2 linked regions of the Homo sapiens genome follow. The protein of the gene in region 1 purifies or fractionates together with the protein of each later gene. This does not show direct contact. Each region holds a gene or a part of one and is shown on either strand. Other genes may lie near its edges.

Region 1 (3,945 bases):
AACTCTAAACTTCTCCTAAATACCACTAATCTTTTAAATGTTTGCTGTGGTGTCATAAAAAGATACTGGTCTTTGTCCCTGGCTCCTAACATAGAGATCCTAAATCTCTTATAATTTCTGGAGTGATAGGGAGTGATAAAAGCTTCTTTTGTTCTAATGAGGCAACCCTTGGCTGGGCCCTTAGATAGCTTCAGGGTGGGGGCTGGTCACCAGAAGACTAAGCCTGGATTAGAAGCCTGGAACCTCTGGGGAGAGGAGAGAGGCTGGGGATAGACTTAATAATCCATCATGCCAACATGACTAAACCTCCATGAAAACCTCTAAATGATGGGGTTTGGAGAACTTCCGAGTTGGTGACCACATCCACATGCCAGGAGGGCAGTGCACCTTAACTCCGTAGGGACAGAACCTCTGCACTCAGGACCCTTCCAGACCTCTCTGTATGTACCTCTTCATCTGGCTGTTCATTTGTATCCTTTGTAAGAAACCGCTAGTGGCCAGTGTTCTGAGTGCTGTGAGTCATTCTAGCAAATAATCAAACCCAAGGAGGGGATTTGTTGGAACCCCAGACTTGGTAGCAAAGTCAGAGAGAAATGTGGGTAACCTGGGGACCTGACATTTGTGAGTGGCAAGTGAAGCAAGGCAGTATTGTGGGACTGAGTCTTTACACCTGTGGAGTCTGATGCTAAATTTAGGTATTGTCAAAATTGAACTGCATTATAGGACACTCAATAGGTGTCAGAATTGGTTTGCGTCAAGAAGAAAAACCCTTGCGCAATCTCATAAGCCAAAAAAAGATGTTGAATTGTTTTATTTTTGCATTTCCTTATTAATGTGGACAAATAACTTTTTTCATGTATATATTGGACACTGAAGTGACTTCTTCTGTAAACTGTCTGTTCTTGTCCTTTGCTGGTTTTCCTACTGAATTGTTTGTCTTTTTCTCACTGGTTACTATGAGCTTTTTGTATATTAAGTATATTAGCCTTATGTTTAGGTTTTGTGTAGCAAATATTTTCTCCTGGCTTATTGACTTTTGTCTTTGTGGGTGGTTTCTTTTTGCCTTGCCAATAATTTAAAAAATGTACAATCAGATATATCAATCTGTTCCTTTATGGTTCTTTGATTTTATGTTATGCTCAGTAAGATCTTCTCTAAGGTTATAAAAATGTTTGTTTCCTCCTGGTATATTTATGATTTTACATTTTTAGGCCTAAATTTTTTAACTGTCTGGATTTTATCTTGATGTGTTTTTTTTTTGGAGACGGAGTCTCGCTCTGTCACGCAGACTGGAGTGTAGTGGCGCGATTTCGGCTCACTGCAACATCCACCACCCTGGTTCAAGCGATTCTCCTGCCTCAGCCTCCCGCGAGCTGGGATTACAGGGGTGCGCCACCATGCCTGGCTAATTTTTGTATTTTTAGTAGAGATGGGGTTTCACCATGTTGGACAGACTGTTCTCGAACTCCTGACCTCAAGCAATCTGCCTGCCTCAATCTCCCTAAGTGCTGGGATTACAGGTGTGAGCCACCATGCCCAGCCAATGCATTTTTTAAAGAGACAACTTTTTAATTTATTCAAAATGTCTAGCTGAATGTTCTAATACCTTTTACTGAATAACTATTCCCCCTTGACTTTGCTACTTTTTATTACATACTGAATTTTTATATTTTCTTGGGTTTTATCCTGAACTCTATCCTATTCCATTGGTTTCTATTCCTATACCATTATCACATTGTTTTAATTACTATTGCTCAACAATATGCTTTATTACTATTATTATTATTTTTGAGACAGAGTCTAGCTCTGTTGCCCAGTCTGGAGTGCGGTGGCATGATGTTGGCTCACTGCAACCTCCACCTCCCGGGTTCAAGCAATTCTCCTACCTCAGCCTCCTGAGTAGCTGGGACTACAGGTGTGTGCCACCATGCCCAGCTAATTTTTGTATTTTTAGTAGAGACAGGGTTTCACCATGTTGGCCAGGATGGTCTCGATCTCTTGACCTCATGATCCGCCTGCCTCAGCCTCCCAAAGTGTTGGGATTACAGGCATGTGCCACCGCGCCTGGCCTATTATTTATTTATTTTTTTTGAGACGGAGTTTTGCTCTTGTTGCCCAGGCTGGAGTGCAGTGGTGTGATCTCAGCTCACTGCAACCTCTGCCTCCTGGGTCAAGCAGTTCTCCTGCCTCAGCCTCCTGAGTAGCTGGGATTACATGTGACTGCCACCACACCCAGCTAATTTTTTGTATTTTTAGTAAAGATGAGGTTTCACTATGTTGGCCAGGCTGGTCTCAAATTCCTGACCTCAGGTGATCCACCTGCCTCAGCCTCCCAAAGTGCTGGGATTACAGGCGTGAGCCACTGTGCCCAGCCAACAATATGCTTTATTATCTGATAGAGCTAGTCTCTACTTATTACTCTTCTATTTCAGAACCTTCCTAGCTATTCTTCCATGCTTATTCTCCCTAAGGCATTTTGGTATCATTTTGTTAAAAGTCCTACTTACCATTTCACTTTCTGCATCTGCTCTAAGGTTTCTGGAAGAGTCATTCCCAAACTTTCAGGGAAAAAAAGGGTGAGGATTCCAATCAGGACAGTCAGACTACCCATGACGATGTAGGGCAGCATTCTGTTGTAAGCACCTGTAAAGCCCGGGACATAAGAACATCAATCAGATAGGAGGACTCTCTGGGCACTCTTGAGCATCATTTTGTGAAGTTGGTGAACAGTATAAGAGAATGGATTTAAATCTGAACATTTTCAGAGAAAAAAAAGTAAGCAAAATATCAGTTTCTTTTTGGCAGATGACATTGTGCATGTCTATAATCCTTTTGCATTATCATAAGGCTTTTCATTCTTTCCTGTCAACTGGTATCCTCTAAGCTACTACTCAGTCATGTGTGACAGATGTTCCTTTGGTAGAGTTCTTTGCCTACCAGAGTTCTCCTCTTAAGGTGGAGGTAATTGGAAATGGGGGATGGGAGGACATCAAGGAGAAGGAGGTTAACCAGGATGTTTCAGGGATAGGTTTTGGCTATGATAGGTCTGGCATGACTCTGCTTTTGCCCAAACTAGTAGGCTGCAGTGGAAAGTTAGGTCCACAGGGCTATGAGACTCAAAAAAAAAAAAAAAAAAAAAAAAAACAACTAAGTATTATGTTCACTTCAGATTAAATCAGTAAATTATAAGTATCAGGCACATTCTGTAAAGGCACTGTGTGCCTGGATTTGGCTTCTTTTTGGAGCACTTACATGTCTTGGGTTAATATGTAATCTCTTTGTGAAGCTTTACTCACACAGGAGAAAAACAGATCCTCATCTTGCTTTGCCCCTGTATACATACAGAGCTTACAGAGGAACAGCACACCCATGGATTTCATTTGACCCAAAACATAAGGAAAATATTGTTATTGCAGCTTCTCTGAGGCCTCTGTGTCACTAACAGGAGTAGCTGTGTGGAGTAGGAGACTCTTGGACTCCCTGTCTTATGTACCAGTGTCTGACCACTGGACCATCTGAGCATAGTTTGAAATAGTTTGAAAGTACAGGGAAGGACAAAGGGAAAAATAACACCACTCTGTATAATCTGCTATCTCAGGTGTGGCACAGGGCAACTGTGCAGAATATGTTTGTTAGGAAAATGTTTCTCTTTCTCTGTAAGGGTTTGGATTATACCTTTCCTGAGAATTCATACATGTTTTCAGGTGTGTGTGTGTGTGTGTGTGTGTGTGTACGTGTGTACCAGTAGGTAACCAATTGCCCAATTGATGAGGTGTGTCTGCATTTCTCACCAGTAGAGTCCTTAATGAGGACCAGGCATGGGGTGTCAGATCCTACATCAGATTGAACATGCCGCTGAAACACCTCTGTAGTTTCATTTCAGATTGACACCTTTGAGTATATAAAAACTAAAATTGTCTTCATTACAAAGATATCATAAAGTGA
Region 2 (3,600 bases), on another chromosome or scaffold:
AATATCCCACCTCTACATGCTAAAGGGAGACCCCTCATGTTCCTTCCCCCAAACCCTGGCACTCCCTTCTCCGGATATGTAGGTTGTCACCCCATAAACTACACAGTAGCTTCTCGCTTCTCGGCCCTTAACGAGCTACTTACTAACTTTAAAAGCCCCACAGAAATGAACTTAACTTGCAGGTCCTCCACCTCCACACTTGGCCCTGGGCGCCATTCCTCTGAAAATAATAGTACCAACCCTTACAAAGACTCTGCCCATGCCCCACTGTCACCAACGAATTCCTTTTCCAGAAGGAAAAGGAAACAGGTTCTTCAGGCTCCTCTTCCAACCTCTTCACCAGTGACTCCCCTCCAAGGTTCGTGGACTCTACCCCCGCAGTTTTCCTCCCCTCACTCCCGGGCCTCTGCCCACCTCACCAACTCTCCCTGCGCTCCCTGTCCCAGAGCCAAGCGGCGGCCGCTCCACTCTCCCAACTTAGAAGTTCTGCCTCTATCACCTGTTCTCACTAGAGCTTCCTCTCAGCCCAGCGGCCCACCTTTGCCCTGGCCTGCCTCTCTCCACCCCTTCGAGTCCTCCTGCCCAGGAAACACCCCCACGAGTCAGTTCCGGGGTGCCTGTCGGATTCAACTTCCCATCCGTGGGATTCCCACCCCCGGGGTCATGCTCCCCTTCTCCATCACCTGCTCCGCCCATAGCCAGATGACATCCGCCGCTGCCTCCTCCTCCATTCCCCTTCTCGGACGCCAGGTCCCCGGCCACTCACCGCCCTCCGTGCGCGCCAGCCGCCCCCTCCGGTGGGGAAGAGGGGGGCGTGCACCCCAACCCGCGCCCCCCCCCCACGACACGCACCTGTTCTTCCTCCTCTTCCCCTCGGCGGGCCGCGCCGGCGCCCCGACCCCCACCCTTGCCGCCTCCCGGCCTCCCGGAGCCCCGCACTCACCACGAGTAGGTCTGCTCCGCCATGGCGCTGCCTCTCGTGGGCTCCGCTGCAGGCTGTGGCCGGGCCCGGCGGCGGCGGGCTCGCTCGGGCCGTAGCTGAAGGCGCGGCCGGGGTCCGGTGCTTGCTTGCTTGCTCGCTCGCTGGCTCGCTGGCTGCACGGCGGGCCGGGAAGGCGGCTGGCGGGGAGAGGCCGGGCTCCGAAGCGGCCCCGCTCCCTGGGCCCCGGGGCGGGGCGGGCTCCGCTCTCGGCCTCCCTCACCCGCGGCGGCGGCGGCGGCTCCGCTGCAGCTCCAAACCCAACATGGCGGCGGCGGCGGCGCGGAGAACAAGGGGGCCCTGGGGCGGGCGAACGGCAAGACGGGCCCGCGCTCACTGCGCGCGGGGCCGCGGGAGCGCCGCGCTCGGGCGGCGGCGGCGGCGGCCGGGGGACATGGCCGGCGGGCGGAGGCGGCGGCGACTGAGGGGGGCGCTAGGCGATGAGGCGAGGCCACTCGATCACACCCGCCGAGGGGAGGAGGGGCGGGGGCGGGGGCGAGCCTTGGCCCCGCGCGGGTCACGTGCCCAAAACACGCTCACGTGATGCGCGCCCCGCCCCTCGAGCCGGGCCCATGCGCAGAGACGTCGGCTCCTGGGTTCTAGGCGGCTGCTGCTCGCACAGCCAGAGCAGTTGGGCCGCCTCCCGCTGCCTGGTGCCGCCCCCCTCCCCACGCGGAGATGTCGCCTCGGGTACCCTCTTCCGCCCCTCTCCGAGGGGCTGCTGCACCAGCCAATCGGGAACCCCGATGCGCGTCTGTTGGCTGCCACTCAGCTGTCAACCGTCAGTCAACAGTCTGCTGGCCACGGGCCCCCCAACTGTCAGTCAACCTGTCAGTCAACAGGCAGAGGGCTGCATTCCTTCGTTCGTATGTTCCTTGGTTCATTCATTCAGGTAGCAAATATTCCAGGCAGCCAACCTTTATTGCGCCCAGGCCCGGCACCAAGTCGAATACCCCACGCTTGCCTTCACAGAATCAATCAACAGATATTTGTTGGGTGCCAACCATGTGTCAACTCACTCTGCCTTCCTAGAGCTTACATTCTAAAGGAAGAGACATAGTCCAAGCCCACAAATAAGATAATTTCAGATGCTGCTAAGTTTTACAAAAACACATTTTGTAACACAAGGTGAGGGGACAGAGAGTGAGCAGAGGTGTGGGTTACTTTAGATAGGGTGGTCAAGGAAGGCCTCGCTTAGGAGGTGACATTTGAGCTGATATTGAATGATGACAGAGAGCTGGCCTTGCAAAGATCCACAGGAAAAGAGTTCCTGGCAGAGGGAACAGCAAGGGCAGAAGGCTCAGGAAACCGTCCATTTGGAGGTCTGGAAACCGGCACAGAAATAAACACGGTAGAGCTAGACCAGAGACCAACAAAGTGAATCTGGAGCTTAGATGGAGAGAGAAGAGAGAGATTAATTGAGGCCCCAGGTACTGCGGAATGCTTCCCCAGGAGTGGATGAGGCCGTCTGAAAGGGTGAGAGGCTTATCAAAGAAAAGTCATTCTTTTGGCCGGGCGCGGTGGCTCACGCCTGTAGTCCCAGCACTTTGGGAGGCCGAGGTGGGTGGATCATGAGGTCAGGAGATCGGGACCATCCTGGTTAACACGGTGAAACCCTGTCTCTACTAAAAATACAAAAAATTAGCCGGGCGTGGTGGTGGACGCCTGTAATCCCAGCTACTCAGGAGGTTGAGGCAGGAGAATGGCGTGAACCCCGGAGGCAGAGCTTGCAGTGAGCCGAGATTGCGCCACTGCACTCCAGCCTGGGCAACAGCGAGACTCTGTCTCAAAAAAAAAAAAAGAAAAAGAAAAAGAAAAAGAAAAAAAAAAAAGAAAAGGCATTCTAGAAAGAAAGAATGGCATGAAGTAAGGCCCAATTCCTGGTGAGCTTGAATCCGAGAGTGGGATGGGTGATTTGTGCTGGAGTGTTGAGAAAATATACTGAGAAGGTGCACTGAGGCCAGACTTTGAGGGCCCAGCTAAGCCTCCTTGCCAGTTACTGTGTTCATGAATAAAAATGATTAACCAGTGCAGCTTCAGAATTTAGAAACATGCCTGGGCAACAGATACACTAACCCTCCTGGACACCCCTCCACCCCCACCCTTCACCCCCCTGTTTCTCTGCAGAAGGCAAAACTCACACACCTGAAACCAACGTACTCAAGCTTCTCTGCAGCTTGCCCAACTTTAGGCCAGAATTTAGCTCTGCTCCAGTTTCCCAGGGCCTGCCCAGGCTTACAGGGAACACCACACCCTGAATCTATCTCCAAATGGATCAGTTGGCCATTGCCCATACATCTGCCGCTTGCCTGTTCCCCAAGGGAAACCCTTTAAAGAGAAAGCCAAGTACACTTTCCCTTCAGAAGCAAAGCTCTCCTTCCTTATTCCCCCACTGCCAGGTGCCAGGACCAGTTAGGTTCCAAGTGTTTCCTCCAAAGCTCTATCAGAGAGCCCTGGGAAAAGGCTCACTGATGAGATTGAGGTCCAGGCCGGGCGCGATGGCTCACGCCTGTAATCCCAGCACTTTGGGAGGCCAAGGCAGGTGGATCATGAGGTCAAGAGGTCGTGACTATCCTGGCCAACATGGTGAAACCCCATCTCTACTAAAAATACAAACATTC

Evidence for each region. The genes of interacting proteins can lie anywhere in the genome.
Region 2: the proteins of SLC22A4 (region 1) and SPPL3 purify together in Homo sapiens (affinity purification with mass spectrometry; 2 studies listed by BioGRID and IntAct, with this or other methods). This does not show direct contact.

Annotation. Positions count from the first base shown.
Region 1 is NC_000005.10:132,339,263-132,343,207, reverse strand, and holds part of SLC22A4 (solute carrier family 22 member 4), read right to left. Parts: intron 2,644-3,945; coding exon 2,508-2,643; intron 1-2,507.
Region 2 is NC_000012.12:120,902,902-120,906,501, forward strand, and holds the start of SPPL3 (signal peptide peptidase-like 3), read right to left. Parts: upstream 1,458-3,600; 5' UTR 967-1,457; coding exon 944-966; intron 1-943.